2 linked regions of the Homo sapiens genome follow. The protein of the gene in region 1 purifies or fractionates together with the protein of each later gene. This does not show direct contact. Each region holds a gene or a part of one and is shown on either strand. Other genes may lie near its edges.

What was found.
Region 2: the proteins of TOP2B (region 1) and NUCKS1 purify together in Homo sapiens (affinity purification with mass spectrometry; 2 studies listed by BioGRID and IntAct, with this or other methods). This does not show direct contact.

What each region holds. Positions count from the first base shown.
Region 1 is NC_000003.12:25,626,386-25,634,900, forward strand, and holds part of TOP2B (DNA topoisomerase 2-beta), read right to left. Parts: intron 7,630-8,515; coding exon 7,456-7,629; intron 6,410-7,455; coding exon 6,308-6,409; intron 6,199-6,307; coding exon 6,061-6,198; intron 4,555-6,060; coding exon 4,416-4,554; intron 4,085-4,415; coding exon 3,927-4,084; intron 3,770-3,926; coding exon 3,644-3,769; intron 2,761-3,643; coding exon 2,650-2,760; intron 2,568-2,649; coding exon 2,462-2,567; intron 912-2,461; coding exon 802-911; intron 480-801; coding exon 387-479; intron 290-386; coding exon 175-289; intron 1-174. UniProt on the Homo sapiens protein: Key decatenating enzyme that alters DNA topology by binding to two double-stranded DNA molecules, generating a double-stranded break in one of the strands, passing the intact strand through the broken strand, and religating the broken strand.
Region 2 is NC_000001.11:205,711,445-205,719,820, forward strand, and holds the end of NUCKS1 (nuclear ubiquitous casein and cyclin-dependent kinase substrate 1), read right to left. Parts: intron 8,233-8,376; coding exon 8,083-8,232; intron 7,036-8,082; coding exon 6,836-7,035; 3' UTR 1,378-6,835; downstream 1-1,377.

The DNA.
Region 1 (8,515 bases):
TGAAAACATAAAACAAAAGCAAAATCAAAAAGGCCTTAAATTCCTCTGAATAAGCTCTTCATATACAAGATTTAAAGTAAGAATTTTAATATGTATCATAAGGATGGCTTAAAGTACATGAAATTAAACTATAGTAAATAACATTAAAAAATGAGGTTTTTAAATATTACTCACCATCAACAAGAGATGGTATAGATCTTTCATTGTCTGAGTTTGAGAAGAGAATCAATTCCTTGTTGATGAAATCATTATAAGTCAAATGCTTTGTTGCAGTACCATATAAAAATTGCTAAGAGAAAAGTTATATAGCAATATTATCATTATTACTGCATGAATTCTAGTCTCTCTCTCCTTCTTTCCCCAGGTCACCACTCTTTAAGACTAACCTCTGGTAAGCCATGTAGCCTACGCTGTCTCCGGTCTTCCATAAAATTTGTTAACCATTCTTTTCTGTCATCAATCTTCTTCTTACTAAATGCCTGAAAGATTCCAGGTAACGATTTTGCACATTAAAAATAAAATAAATTTTATTACAAAATTAAAATGTATAAGTGGCCAATAACTAATTCTTAATTTCTGGAAAATTAGGTTATTTTACAATATTTTAATCAAAAACACATTTAAACTAAGGTCTTTCAATTAAAGAAGTTTATACAAGCACAGCATCATCTGGGGGAAAAATTAAAATTAACTAGCTTGAGCATTCAAAAGAGACTTATCATAGGGAACCAGGACTGGGAGGAAAGGAATAGAAGGTAGGGGGATGGCTAACAAAAGCTTTTAAAAAATTAACTTAATTACCAAGGTAATGGCAGCATCATCTTCAGGACCAGCATATCTAAACAAGATGCGATGCCTTTCCATATCAGCAAAATATTCCTTTGCTTCTTTAGCTGTACTAGTACCCAATCCTGCACAATTTTAAAAATAAAAGTGAGTCATGAATATCAATGTCTGTTTAAAACCATCAAGTAAAAAGCTGGTGGAAAAGTTGTAATAGATGGATCAAGCTGGCAACACCTATACTAAGTGATCAATCTTAATAAGCAACTAAAGACAAAGTAGACATTAGATGCTTCCTGATGAAAGCACACAACGCTACCTATGAAATGTTTTTGCCAAACAAATGTAACCCAAATCTGATCACGCCTCTGATTTAACCATCAGTTAACAGAAAATAAGGGCAAAGGAAAATACTATATATTAAATGTAACTAGAGGAATATAATTAACAAAATCCAGAATGTGGAATATTACACAGAACAAACAACCCAACTTCTTTAACAAATAAATTACAAGGAAAAAATATAAAAAGAGAAATGCTATATTAATAAACTTATCAACCAAATGCAATGTGTGGACCTTACTTGGATCCTGACTTTGGAAAAAAACAAACAAACTCAGGCCAAGCATGGTGGCTCATGCCTGTAATCCCAGCACTTTGGGAGGCTGAGGTGGGCGGATCACTTAAGGCCGGGACTTCTAGACCACCCTGGCCAACACAGCAAAACCCCACCCATACTACAAATAGCCAGGCATAGTGGCACATGCCTGTAATCTCAGCTACTTGGGTGGCTGAAGCATGAGAATCACTTGAACACATGAGGAAGAGAGCCGAGATCCCACCACTGCACTCCAGCCTGGGCAACAGAGCAAGACTCTATCTCAAAAAAATAAAAACAATTAAAAAAAAACGAAATAAAAATAAAAATAAAAAACTCTAAAAATAAACAATTTTAATACAGTCCAGGGGAATTTTAACACTGGCTGGGTATTTAACATTATTTAAAAAAAAAAAAAAAAAAAGGGAGCCAGGCATGGTGGCTCACACCTGTAATCCCAATACTTTGGGAGGCCAAGGTGGGTGGATGGCTTGAACTCAGGAGTCCAAGACCAGCCTGGGCAACAAACCAAAACCCCATCTCTACAAAAATACAAAAATTAGCTGGGTGTGGTGGCACACACCTGTAGTCCCAGCTACTTGCGGGGGCTGAGGCAAGAGGATCATTTGAGCCCGGAAAGTCAAGGCGGCAGTGAGCTGTGTTCATGCTACTGCACTCCAGCCTGGGTGACAAAGCAAGACCCTGTCTCAACAATAGGATATTAAAGAAGGTTATGATAATGGTATTATGGGTTACTTAAAAAAATTCTTTCAGAAATACATACTGAAGTAGTTATAGGTGAAATACTAGACTATAATGTCTGGAAGTTTTTTCAAACTAATGGAGTGGCAATAAAGGAGGTTTACAGGAAACAAGACTAGCCATTGAAATGGTGATCCCATTCAATGAAATCTATTACACTATTCTACTTGCATACATTTTTCTATAACAATACTTTAAAATCAGTGATAGCTATTTTCGAAGTCTAAAATAGTCAAACTTTCAAGTCATCTTTTAGATTGCTTTCATAAGAATACATTTATATCAGTATTTAAAATCTAAGTATTTTAAAATACAAACCTTTATAGTACTTTATTTTCCAGGCTTTCTGGTTTTCTATATGTTTTTTCCATTCGTCAAATTCAGGAATACTGTAGAAGGAAAGTTCCTGCTTATTTTTGCTTGCCTTAAATTAATTAAAAAACAAAATTAGTTTTTCTGCTACCCTTTAAGACAACAATATAAAAATATATTAATGCAAAGAGTACCTTTACAATAGGAGTAATGAACTCTTCAAGAAAACCATGCTTCAAAAGTGATGGCCAATTGTGATGGATGAAATTAATAAGCAGGCCTTTTATGTGAGAACCATCTTGATCCTAAATAAATGTTAGTAAAGTAAAAAATGTTGTAATACTTTTATAAAATGATTACTTATATAAACAAATTTTAAAACGTGAATGCAAAAAACCAAAATTCTGAATTTTAGAAATGCATTTTACAAAAGCTATTAAGATGATCATACTAAATTTTTTAATACACAAATAAAGAATATAGTAGTAATAGACTGAATCTGTCATTATAAAAATATATTATCATTTTATCTGTTTTATAGTTTCCCCAGATTTCACTAAAAGAATGATTTAAGGATAGAAAATACATAAAATAAAACATGGTTATAATGCCACCTTAATGGGCAATGGTAGGGAAACCCAGGTAATACAGATATTCACAAGTCTTCCCTAGATAAAAAATTGGAAAATTTCTGCTTAAAACTATATATTAATAGCAGTTTTTTCAGTTGCAGATTTTCTCTACAAATACTTTAGAGTGCATAAGAGAAAACAGTTGAATGCATCTGAAATTCTTCCTTTTCAATTTTCTAGTTCTTTCTCGATTACCATCATTTTACTATTTAAGTCCTGGTATTTGTGCATTCCAAATCATGCCATCATGTATAAATATTAACCCTTATCATTAATCTTTCTTACTTGTTAATTCCATAATTTTGTTCCTACTTGTAGGTAGGCTGCTATAGTACCACACTGTATTATATTCTCCTTAGTTACCCCAAAAATCAGACAATGTAAAATGTGCTTCATAAAAATGTTTCCACTAAATGACGTGGTTTTTTCATTTTTTCCTCCTGATGTATAATCACTTTCAGTTATACCATCTTCGGGCAAGTCTCATAAAACAAATATTAAAGGGAGAATCTGAAGAAGACATGAATTTGAAATATGTGGTAACTTTAAAACCAACCTGATCGGTCATAATCATAATCTTTCCATAGCGTAAGGTTTTCAGAGATTCTGCATCATCGTAACTTTTCTTATATTGTAGACCAACTATTTTAATAATATTATTTATTTCAGCATTTTCCATGATCTGTTCAAAAAGGAAAAGCACTGAGAGTAGTTTGAAGTGTTGAAATATACGAGTCAGAAATTACATTTAAAAATTCGAGAAGTTTAGTAAAGTATTAGAAATGTCATATGTATGTGTGCATGTGTGTATACACATATATATACACACACATACATACCTGTTTATGAGAAGCTTCCCGTACATTAAGAATTTTGCCCCTGAGTGGAAAAACTCCGTATCTGTCTCGTCCAATCACACCTAATCCAGACACAGCCAGTGATTTGGCAGAGTCTCCCTCTGTTAATATCAGTGTACACTCCAGGGAATGTTTACCACCTGAGAGAAATTTAAAATTATACATAGTAAAAATTTCTCATACTTTCACTGATGAGAAAAATGAAGTCAGAAAATTAACATTAGAATGCTGACAGTGAAAGACTATAAAAGTTATTTTACATTATTGCTCAGTATAAATATTAAGTATATTTTATTAAATTCCTATCCCCTGAAAATTAGTAATATGTTGTGTATGTGATAATTTCAATGAAGTAAAATCATACTCTGAATGGAAAATCATAGTCTAACTATATGTAGAAAATAAAAAAATTCTGTAACTAAATAAAAGTGAAACTTAAATCAAAATCTTATTTAAAAATATCAATCTTACCAGCATCATTAGCATCATCCAGTTTGGGAATACCTTTGATTTTACTGTATTTTACTGATGAACACTTCTTATTCAGCTGAGTCTGAGCCTTAAATTTCACCCAGTTCAGGATACTTTCTACAATGCCACAATTAGAGGCCTAAAAATAAAAGAATAATGGTATACAAACAAGCTGAAAATTCATACATTTAGCTAAAATGTATAGGGCCTAATGCAAGACCTGGAATCTGTGCAATTTTAAGGTATTTTAGGGCAAAACAATAATGGTGATAAGCATCATGATACATGCTAATCAGCTTTTACTCAACTACTGTAAAATTAAAGCTAAAATATAAATACATGAAAAAGGATAACTTTTACATATGAGAAACATTCTATTATAATAAACTCCATGAGGAATATGCATTGCTCTTGTTACAAATTAATTTTATTAAAATTAACACAGTGAAAACAGATCCACACATGAACCTACTAGCCGGCAAATTCCAGACGTTGACATTTCTGATATCCTTCAATACAAAACGTGAGTCTTTAATTCACTATGACAAAAAGTATTAACCTAAAAGGAACATTAGGATAACCTTGGTAACTTATGAATAGACTTTTATTCTTTAAATAGCTTGGTAATAAAGATTTCAACATTACATATTGTTTGTACTCTGCAGTGAATCAATCTGTGGCAAGATGTTAACCCAGACAGAAAAAGGAAAAGAAAGTTAAGCATCTCCAACTCTAAGTCCTAAAAGTTTTTTTATCATCCTCGGTGATTTGATGTTAGGTGTATAAAACAGTTTTCTGGAATGTTTAAGACATAAACAAAAGAGGTGAACTGTGTTGTCAAATTTAAACTTAGTGCACCTAAAATGAAAAAGTATAAAATTTAAAATCAAATCACTTCATCAAGGAAACAATTGTTATGAGGACAGAAATTTGGGAAAGCATTAATATAGCATAATTTGTACTCAGAATTCATTAAGATTAGATCCAAAAGTACTATTTCTACAGGCCTTAAGTTAGAACCTAAAAAACAACTTTTGTTTTTGTTTCTGATAATCTACTTTTTGGAATTTGAGAAATACATTAGTTCTAGGGCAGTTATAGAGCATTTCCCCACCAAAATTCCAAAGAGGAGAGGCTGTGATTGATTCATCTCCATTATTTATTTGTGCTCTCACCTTATTTTAGAGAAGTTAAGGTAGCCTAAAAAAATTATGTGCAAAGCAAAGCAATTTAAGAACATGTAGAAAATAGTACATTTTGTTATACATGTTACCACAATTTTTAAACATGTATAAAGATAAGAATCAGTAGATCAAGTTGAAATGAGAGTAGAAAAGATGAAAGAGTTGCATAAGGATCTGGACATCTGTTAGGGGAAATCTGACCTTTACAATGGTCAATACAAAGCTAAAAATGCAATTAGTTACATAATTCCCTACTTTAGTTCTTGGCAAAACAATTGTTTTAGGAAACATTAAAGTCTACCCTTTAAAGTTATCAAATTAAGCATATTAGTTTGTAGTGCAAGCATGCTTATACCCACAGTTAATACGATGAAAGAAACTAATCACAAATAAAGTAAATCAAGAAAACTACCTAATCAACTCTTAATAACAACAATAAAAAAAATACAAGTTTTACTCACTGCTTTAAAAAATTTTTCTGACAGCTGGCATTTAGACCCAAAACTTTTGGGCTGCAGAGTCATGTTTTCCTTAGTCTGAGAATCAAAAGTTGGATTTTCAATAAGGCAATTAATAAAAACCCATATATGGTTTTTTACCTGTTGAAAACATACCCAAAAAAGTCAATATCAGAGCTGATATTTAGTAATTCAGTATATATATAATGCATATGTATGCATCATGTACAATATATAACACATCCCTTACTTGAAATGGTTTCACTGATACACCAGCTTTGTTCTTTTTCTTAACTACTTCAATCAGTTTACCAACAACTTGATCTACCACATAATCCACGTGCCGTCCACCCTAAAGAAAAAAAAATATATGAAATCTGAAATCCTGTATTGTTAAAGTAGCAAAATACTTTATCTGTATTATAAACCCTATTTTCTAAAAGAGTAATAGAGTCTCAGAACGAGAGTTGAGATTTTAAAAAAATAAGACATTTTGGCTACAGAGCCAATAAACCAACCGCTGTGTTTTTTTTGTTTGTTTGTTTGTTTGCTTTCCTCACTTCAATTCTAACACCAATTCTCAGGTGCTTTCAACACCAGCAACCAATTCTCTGATTCTCCAGACACCAAATGGATGTTCAACAATGTAATTCAATTTTGATACTAACTACCTGGAGTTAGCACAAGTATTTAGGGTTGGTTAAGGGCTCAATCCCACAGGACTCCCCACACTTCAGATGCCAGTTACAAGTCCTAGGCCTCCTGTACTTCTAACGAACCTATGACCCACTCCTCAGGAATGATAATTTGCTGGAACAGGTCACAGAACTCAAGAACACACTTTACTTCATTTACAAGTTTTTTATATAGGATCCAGCAATAATAGCCAAATGGAAGAGATGCATAGGGCATAGTACAGGGGAAAGGGTACACAAAGCTCCATGCCTTACCCAGACATGCCACCCTCTTGGCACCTCAAATGTATTCACCAACCTAGGAGTTCTGTGAACTCCATTGTTCAGGAGTTTTTACAGAGCTTTATCACATAGCCATAATTGATTTTTAACTCAGTCACCAGCCCCCTCTCCTCTCCCCAGAGGTTGGGGAAGGTGGGGCTAAAAGTTACAGAAAAAGGAATTTGTTATTCTAAATTTCATAAAATATAAATATGTTCAACTACAAACACTAGTCATATAAATTTATTTCTCAATAATTGTTTAAATAAATTTTAATACAGCAATTTCATAGAAAATAGGTTTTTGTTTTCATAAGTCAATTCTTATTTAACAAAAACAGATTTGGGTTTTTTGGGGGTTGTGGATATTGTTATTTGTTTTGTAGTTTTTATTGAAGTACTGTTCTACCACTGACTTGGAAACAAATAATTTGCTTACTTACTTTTGTAGTTGCAATACTATTTACAAAGCTGATTTGCTGGAATCCTTTTTCACTCAATGTGAGACAAACATCCCATCTTTCATTTGCAAGCTCATGAATAACTTTCAGGGCCACCCCAGTTTCATCCAATTTGTCTTTCACATAAAGATCTACATAACTGCGAAATCCATTTACCTATTAATTTAAAAAACAAAAACAATTAAAAATCTTACACTGGCAGCTCAAATAGGTGAATCACCTTCAGTACGTATACTTTCATTTCCTCTCACTTACAACAGTTCTAAGTGCACCGATCCAAACCTTAGTGGCATTTCCCAGATCTATTCCTTAACCCTTGACCTTTAAAAAAGAAATTCATTTCTATGTGTACTTGACAAAAAGAGGATGTGAAGGGACAGGTAAATTGTTATAAAATATTTCAGAAATTTCTATTTTTAAAATGATAAGGTAGACTTCCAGTTTCAGTTCAGACAGATAATGAACTAGCAGGAAAAAAAGCTTCCATCCTTGTAAGAAAACGGGTGATCAGACAACAAATTAATGGGTTTTTCATGAACCCACTGAAGAACTGAGATCACAGGAGAGCTGGCCATCCTGAAGTCTGGAGAGACATAAGTGTCTGTAGGAGACCACAAAACCTAAGCTTTTGCTTACCTGGGGCAGATATTTAATAAGCTAGTAGGAACTTTAAACTAGAAATTTTGACTAATTGCTACTGGAAGAGTGTATACTAGTTTGAATGCATAAAGCTTCTAGGGACTATAGTCATAAGTTCATTCATTCATACTCTTGCAGGTTTTTCTTTCAGAAAACCCACCAAATTCTCACAGGGAAGACCAGTGAGAATCTAGAGGTTTCCCCTCTGCACTCCCATGGTGCTAGCTGGGAGACAGAAACAGTAGTCACTGGGAAATCAACCCAGATCTATCTCCCTTACCAAAAAAAAAAAAAAAAAAACCAAAAAAAGGCTTATTCTGCAGGGCAGGAAACCTCAAGGACACAGGCTGAGAACACTGGTGGAAACCTGCTGCAGCTGGGGAAAGAGAATAGAGGGCAGAAA
Region 2 (8,376 bases), on another chromosome or scaffold:
GCAAACCGAAGTATTCAATGAGAAATCTCCTTACTCATTGAAGTTTCCGACTTTCCCCATTAAATCTTTGATGTAACTCATTGGACTGGTTCAAGTATCACTGTTACTGGGAGATGTGAGAGAACAGCAAAATGCTCAAAAGCTCAATACCAGGAAGAAGGCTTAAGGGACCCATGTATACCAAAGGGAGCTGGCTTTAGAACGAACAACTGTGATAACTTAAAGCACACAGCACTGATTCAAACCCTTGTTGTACTACATACTAGCTACATCAGGTACCACATAAAACCTCATCTTACCTGAACCAGGTTATTCTTTACAATATTGGAAGAACAAACACTTGCCGATCTCACAGTTGTTGGAAAAATTAAATGAGGTAATATGTGTTGCACAACTACAGTGTAGTACTGTATACCGATGTTCATGGATAGGAGTCTAGGTAGCTCCAAGTGTGTTTTAACCTCTCTTCATCTGTTTATCCACTTGTTGGTTTTTGAAATCCTTTAAATCAGACTGCATTTCTTCAGCACTGTCCTGAAACATAAAATTGTCTATGTTATCCATAAAATACTTAAGGATTATGAGGAAAAGTAGATGGTTAATGCTCATCCAAATTCAACTTTAACCTGAGACAACTCATTATATTAAGAAATAAATGTATGTGGGCAGTGTGCCTGCACCTGTAATCTGAGCTACTGGGGGAGCTGAAGCAGGAGGATCCCTTGAGTCCAGGAATTTGAGACCAGCCCAGGCAACATAGCAAGACTCTCATATCTCCGAAAAAGAATAAAATGGCCGGGAGGGGTGGCTCACGCCTATAATCCTAGAACTTTGGGAGGCCGAGGTGGGCAGATCACTTGAGATCAGGAGTTCAAGACCAGCCTGGCCAACATAGTGAAACCCCGTCTGTACTAAAAATACAAAAATTAGCCAGGTGTGGTGGTGTATGCCTGTAATCCCAGCTACTTGGGAGGCTGAGGCAGGAGAATCACTTGAACCCGGGAGGTGGAGTTTGCAGTGAGCTGAGATCATGTCATTGCACTCCAGCCTGGGCGACAAGAGCAAGACTCCATCTCAAAAAAAAAAAAAAAAAAAAGAAAGAAAGAAATTTAAAAAGTTAGCTAGTCACTGACGGATAACAGGATGCACAAAGCATTTAATTTCAAAGCCAAATTTGCATTTCAATTATAGTATTTGGCTGACAAGGCAAGTATGTAAACAAGAGGAAAAGTTAAAAAGAAAAAAGCCCTAATAGCTACAATATCAGCCCAGTTCTAAAGAGGGATCTTGTACCACATTGTCCACCTAACAAGTAATCTTTAATTCAAAATTCAGCGTAGTTCTTATGGGTATTTGGAATTGAATGCAAGTGTGTTCTGTGAGTATAAACATTATCTTTTATTATATATGATTGTTAAACTTTGCTTTCCACAACACTTCATAACCTTGGATGTAAACATGAGAAAAAATGCTAATTAAGAATCCTTACGCACCCAGTCCAGTGCTCCCTTAATTAATCAAACTGGTAAGTCTACTGCTTCTTGATTCCATCCTGAGGTATTAACTTTTGAACCAAGACATGTTTATCTTTTACCAACAACAGGGATGGTCACTGTTAAAGTTTCTAAATAATTTATTAGGGAAATAAGTTCCCACAAAGTCAGGCTGAACTGGGAGCTGATTAACAAAGCTGTGTAAGTTAGTGTGTTTGCTTTAAGGTATTACAAGAAGTACACAGAGCACACATCTGGGTTATAAAAGCCCTTTTATAAAGCCATTTTTAAACAAAACAAAAAAAAAGTTTACAAAAGAAAAAAAGATACAGAAAAAGAATAACTTGCTTCATATGTCCCAAAAAGAGAAAAAAATAAAGGGGACAATGCCAACATGCTCAACAATAAAGGCTTCTTTTTCTTATTTTTTTAATACAAAATACAAGCAAAGGATACACATACTTAAAACAGAGCTCAGGAGCAGACACGCAGTCCTGGAAACCCTTCAATAAAAGCAAAGCAGGAGTTTGTTTTTTCTTTGTCTATGCAGATACATACAGAGACTGGGATATGTAAAAATTAAGTATCACAAAAGACCATCACACGATTCTACCAATGCATGTTGCATCTGTAATTCACGAACATGGTCAACAAAATCATGTTCACTTCAACCCCATTTCATTTAAATTAAAGAAAAAAACCTTTTAAATAAAGTGGTTACATTCAAACTTTAACTTCCTTAGTACCATGCTGCAGATTTCAGCACTGTTAAGGTATTGCAAGAATGCCCAACCCTCTGGTGTCTGATCATGTATCTAGCAACATTGCAGTATGAAGAAAAGAGATGCCCCGGTCTCAGCCCATGGACTAGTTAATACAGTGAAGCAGGTTCCTGTCTTTTACCCTTCCTGCTCAGAACATAAAAGATTAAGGACTAAAATCAAGGAAGACTGGGAGTTTTAGAGCTGGCAAAATGAAGTCTAAAAGATAAATCAAGGCAAACAATTACTGAGAACTTGGCTGTTGCTTAACCTGGCAAGTCTAAAAGCCTTTCTTTAACCTTGTAGGAATTAGATGCATAAGGTTTGCTGCAACATGTTCATGGTAAACAAACTAAGTAGAGCTCTTATTTACAAATCTTGTAACAAATACTTCTGGAGGAAAAAGAGAAAAGAATTCACTAAGTTCCAGAAGACAAAGCTTTAATTGCCAGATGTATACAAACACACACTCACACGTACACACCCACACAATACTTCAGGGGTTTTTATACATGTTATTTTAGGGCATAAGCTGAGTACTATACCCCCACACCCCATCAAAAAAGGAACAACAAAAAAATCCCAATTTTACCCTCCCCCAATAATCTAGAAAACCCTCCCTTCACCCCTGATGTACAAAGTGTATGCACAACGGTGGCATTCTACCAGCCACACAAAGCATGCTCAAACAGATGTCACCAGTTCAGTCACTCCATTGGCATGGCAACAGGCAGGTTTACGGGATGTTTCCCAATAGTGGTTATTACACAGTCAGCACCACTGTGAATTTTGTGAATTTGAAAAAAAAAAGTGTAATTTATGGATTCAGGATTCAAAAAGAATCATTTTGTATCGAATTTACCCCAGACAAAGGGAAAACTGGTTGCGACTGAAACTTGGCTATAGATAGCTTGATGTCCCAATATTCAAACAATAAGCCAACTCTCCATTTTCAAGTAAATCCAGCTTCATCCACAGAGAAACAGACAATTTTCTAACCTCAAGAGCAACCAGCTTGTTACATTTTCCCTATCCTATGGCAGGAAATGCGTATTACTTCTGTTCTGTTTAAGCATCTCAGTCTAAATGCCATGAAGACCAGAGCCCAGGTTTCTTCCTTTTCAAATTCTTAAGGTGAAAGTTTTTTCCTTTCAGTGCAGCTACCAATGATGCAGGCAAAGAACTGTTCAAGCCAGCACTCATTCTTCAAAGCTGCAACAGTGGCCACCATGATCTTTTATAAAGCTTTCCCCGTTGCTCCTGATATTTATTTCTGCTTTTGCCTAACGCTCTCAAAGCATCTCGTAAACTGAAGTTTAAAGAAAAGCACGATTCCCATCCCCAACCAGTACTTGAAAATCCACTTATCTGAATGTTCACAGATAAAAAAGCCATTAAAAAAAAGAGTCAAGTTTAGTCTAGCTGACCATATTCACAAGTGTTAAAAACTTTACTGGAGTATAACCTCAAATTTCACTCTTGATTTGTTATCTGTAAGAAAATGCTATTTGAGCCAGTACCAAATTAAGTATTAAAATGAGGATTGAACTGGGGCAAACAGGTTATTGTGAAAACAGTCAATATGTAAGCTCCTTCAAGGGAAATCAACTACTGTTCCTCAAGATTAGAAGATGTCCACACTCTTTGCATTACCTCCCTAAAGGAGGAAACACCCATTAATTTTCCCTTATGGAATCAATATGGAGTGGAAATATGAAATGAGGAGATGTTTTAGAAAGCAGGACAAATCTACCTACCATTACTGGAATTAAAATGTATCCTCTGGGCCCACTCCATTGATTCCGATCTGAGGTGAGGAGGACTAAAAGCAGCAGCAGGTTACAGAAAGACTGAATAAGATGAAAGTATGCTACGTATGTCTAGCTGGGGAAGGGGGGATCTGGAAAAAAAATCTTAAGAACTAGAATGTAGTGTCAGTCAGCATAGCTGCTGAAATCTACGTTGTAGAGGTAAACCTAGCAGAGCTAATACAAACAAGCACCTTCAAAGTTAACGTCCCACTTCCTGAGCACTGCAAAATACGACAGTGAATGCTATTGCCATTTCACCATAGGCACACTAGAGAAAAAGAGGAAGGTTAGTCAAGGATGGTGCCAATGGCCAGTCAGTATCGGCTTACAGCTTGTAATGCGTCCTGACATCACTATCAAGCCTGACTATTGAGCACCTGTATCCAGTTGAGTCACCACCACTGTCCTCCTATTTGCATGCATGATTTGAGGGGAAGACTAGAGTGTTTTAAATCATCAATAAAAAGTGGAGAAAACAAAGGTTATTCAGAGCCTGTCTCACTTGGGGACACAGATCCTTCTGTCCAGTCTATCAGAAATATAGAATACATTTTTCAATCTAATGAATTAATTTTAAAAGGGACCCTAAACAAGAAGCCCAATCAAATGCACACAAGTAATCTAGAAGACATGATTACCTCTAAAATATGTGCATATATCACAGAGATGTTAGTGCAGATTAATATATTAAAGAGACTGTTAAACAACTGAGGCTGAAGTTTTAAAAGAGCCCTCCCCCCAAATCTTCACGAAACATAACCTAAGAAAAGCCCAAATGTTACTAGGAATGTAAGACTTAAAATTATAAACTCCTAAAAAATAGAAGTGCATGGTGGAAACACTGATAGGTCTTTTACTATATGAACACAAACTTCTTTGTTAAAAATGGATACCTGAACAAACCCATTTAGGCAAATAGATTAATCTTTAACACCCTCATTACAAAGTTCACACCTCTGAATTTAACCGTCATGAAAGAGAATGATCCAACTGCTATTTATGTTCAAGTCCTGTATTTTTGGCCATGTAACTGAAAACTCCTTATTCATTCTTTAACACACAGTGCAATAGTGAAATGACTCTGCCACTGTGTGTTTTTTAAAAAAAGATCAGAGTAAGCATGTTCCTAGTAAACCACAAAGTAGGATATTGAGGAAGCAAATCTAGATTAAAAGGCAGGAAAAAAAGGCAGAAGTTTAAATTTCACTAATTTTTCAATTTATTAGCATACCAGGACCCTTTAAACCTTGTTCCCATTAGCGCCTGGTATTAGATGTGAAGGATCAAACCTACGGATCTATCTCCTGACTGCTTTTATAAGGCGTGTAAAAGTCGGTTTTCAACTGCACACAGGCCTCCTAAAATGCCTTGTTTCTCTAGTCCCTCCTGCTTTAAGCAGCATGAGCAGTAAAGCAGGGGTTGGACCAAATAAAAAGACAAGAGCTAACTGAATTGTATGGGAGCAGCATTTAACATATTCCTAGTCAAGGACAGGATGGGAAGTAAGTGAAGAATAGGGCCAGGAAAATAGTGTCCTATAGCAGAGGTGGTTGGCACTCGGGGTAGGGTGTGCAGTGGTGCTCTACGAAGCAGCAGGATCACAGGGATGTACTTCTTATCACATTTCTATGAAGAAATGGGAAGATCGGGATATGAAAAAGAAAATGTTCTATCCCCAAATAAAAGCAGAGCATGGTTAATGGGACCTGAATGCACATTTATAGCATAAAAGAATGTCAATTCTATTTCATAAAGGAAAAATCTCAACTCTTTGTGACTGAGTTTCACATTAACTGGAACTTTATTTGCTTAAAACCTAAACATTGTCAGTTTGAAAAGAAATCCACTGTGACCTGTAGACTGATCTTGTTGATTAAATTCTAGGGTTTTTTTTTTTTTGGATTCTTGGTAAAATTTTATCCAAAAAACAGGATACATATATATTTAGAGAAGGAAATATGAAATCAAGAGTTTTGGCAGCCCCTGCTTTTTTTTTTTTTTTAGCTCCCTAAAGACTGTAGCAGGATAAAAGGATCACTGGCTCCGAGTCTCTTTGAGATAACAAGTGATGAAATAAAAAAGAAAGCCCATACCCTCAAATAAGGTCAGGTAACCCCATTGCCCACCCTCCCTACAAGGTAAAAAATGAGTACTTTTAGTAACAGTTCAGAATTCATCTTTATCTCCTACCTGCCTCATCGGTGGAAGTTTAAAGTCATGATTTTTTTTAGACATTGATACTTGTGTCTATAGACAAATAAACTCATATTAGATGACAATTGATTTTTTAAAAGTCCAGGTAGAGAAAGGAGCAATCATTTTGAACTAAAATCTTTCTATGTTTTTTGATTACTATTCAACTTGCTATTTTTTAGCAAAAAGCGAAGTTTCAATAGTGTTCATCTCAAATCTTATTGCTTTACAACCGTGGTACACCTTTCATTAAAAATAAAAAGATGAAGCAGTCAATCCAGTGATTAATTTGACATGGCTTTCATTGGGAAAGGGGAGGGCTGGCAAAGAGACCAATAGACAAAAAGGTAACTTAAACACTTACACATACAATGGTTTGCTTTAAAAAAAAAAAAAAAAAAAGAGAGAGAGAGAGAAATGTTACTTTCAACAAATGGAAAAAAGCACTGAAAGCCCATGAGTCAAGCCATAGCCAAAACCATGTTCTATCTTAAGTAGGTTCTTTTTTTTCCTCCCTCTTTTTTCTTTTTTTTTCTTTTTTTTTTTAATAAAATCTCTCCCCAGACCATCATCACTTTTAATCCTCCCCAGAAGGGGCTTCATCTTCAGACCCTTCATCCCCAGATTTCTCGGGTGGGGGGCTTGTAGATGTTTTCTTTTCTGGCGGGCTTTCCGGTTCCTCATCTTCTTCTTTGGGAGAAGGAGTCTTTTCCTTTGATGCCTTTGAAGCTGTGGGGCGACCCACTTTCCCTTTGCCTTTCACTGGACTTGGCGTCACTGAAAATAGAAAAATAATTTGGGGAAGGGAAGAGAAAAAAATGTCTTTAATAAAAGTCAGCTACAAAATACAACAATCTGTAAGAATAAAATCTATAAAGACAATATGCAACTTACTAAAAACCAAGGTGGGCACAAGGGAGCACATATATCCCTAGGTAAATCTATCTCAGTTTCTAAACTGGTCATAAGTTACTACACTATGCTACAGTATTTCCCATCAGTTTTTACCAACACTCTATGATGTTAGCAGTAATACCTGTAAAGAAGAAGCACCATGCTATAGAATATGCACAACATCCTTAATTGCTTGGTAAACTAACAGTTGTTTATGATAAAAGTTGTTTATAAAAAGCAGGTCAAAAAGACGGAAGGAAAAGAATTAATCTGATCAGAAACTAAAGCCATCAAATAACATTTGATAGTTCCATCATTCCTAACAGTAGGAAGTGATAAACAGAAGTTTAACAATGACTAGTTCTACCTAACAGAATAAAACCACCTACACAAAAAGCAAATTGATTTCTGATTTAGTTAACAAACTAGCTCCAACGAGGAGAAACCATTAGGGCTCAGAAAAAAATCAACTCATGTCATCAAGTGTGGTTTTATTCTGATAGCACAGAGGATGGGGTAGAGTTCAGAACGTGGAACTTAAACGTATTACTCTAGGTTTGTGCATTTTCACAATTAAGTCTTTGCTGGCTGCTGAGACTGTGATACCAGTGAGGAAAAAAGAGCAGTAACAACTATGATGACACAGTGTTTCTACCACTGTGTCTGAAACAAATAGATCATTCTGAAATCTTGCTCAAGTACTGGCAGTAGTTGAAGAACATGGCTAAGCCCACTAGACTCTTAAACAGGCTAGTGTCTTTATTAATAAGAGATACTTCCAGTTGCAGAATACAAGACCCTTTTAGATTTCTTGTATTCCTGCTAAACATCAGGCCAATGCCAAATCCTAATGAGGAATTTCTGTATTGAAAATAATGATTCTCAAAATTTTTAAAGCAGTAAATTTAATTTCACTTCTGCAGAAATTACCTGTAGCCTTTAGTCTGGGTTTGGGCATTTTCTTTTCTTTTCTTTCAGGTTTGGACTTCTTAACCATCTTTTTGTTTTTCTTTTTCGAACTGCCATAGTCACTATCGTCATCATCTTCCATTAGGAAATCTTCATCGCTGCCGGAATCTTCTGAGAAGAAAGAAGAATTTCAACATCTAACTTAATGTACACATCCTTCCAAGTAAAAAAGGAAGAGAGTGCTAAGAATGACTAGAGGATGGGATTTGGGAGTCAAACACCCTTGGATTCTATTTGGAGCTGTACTACCAATTT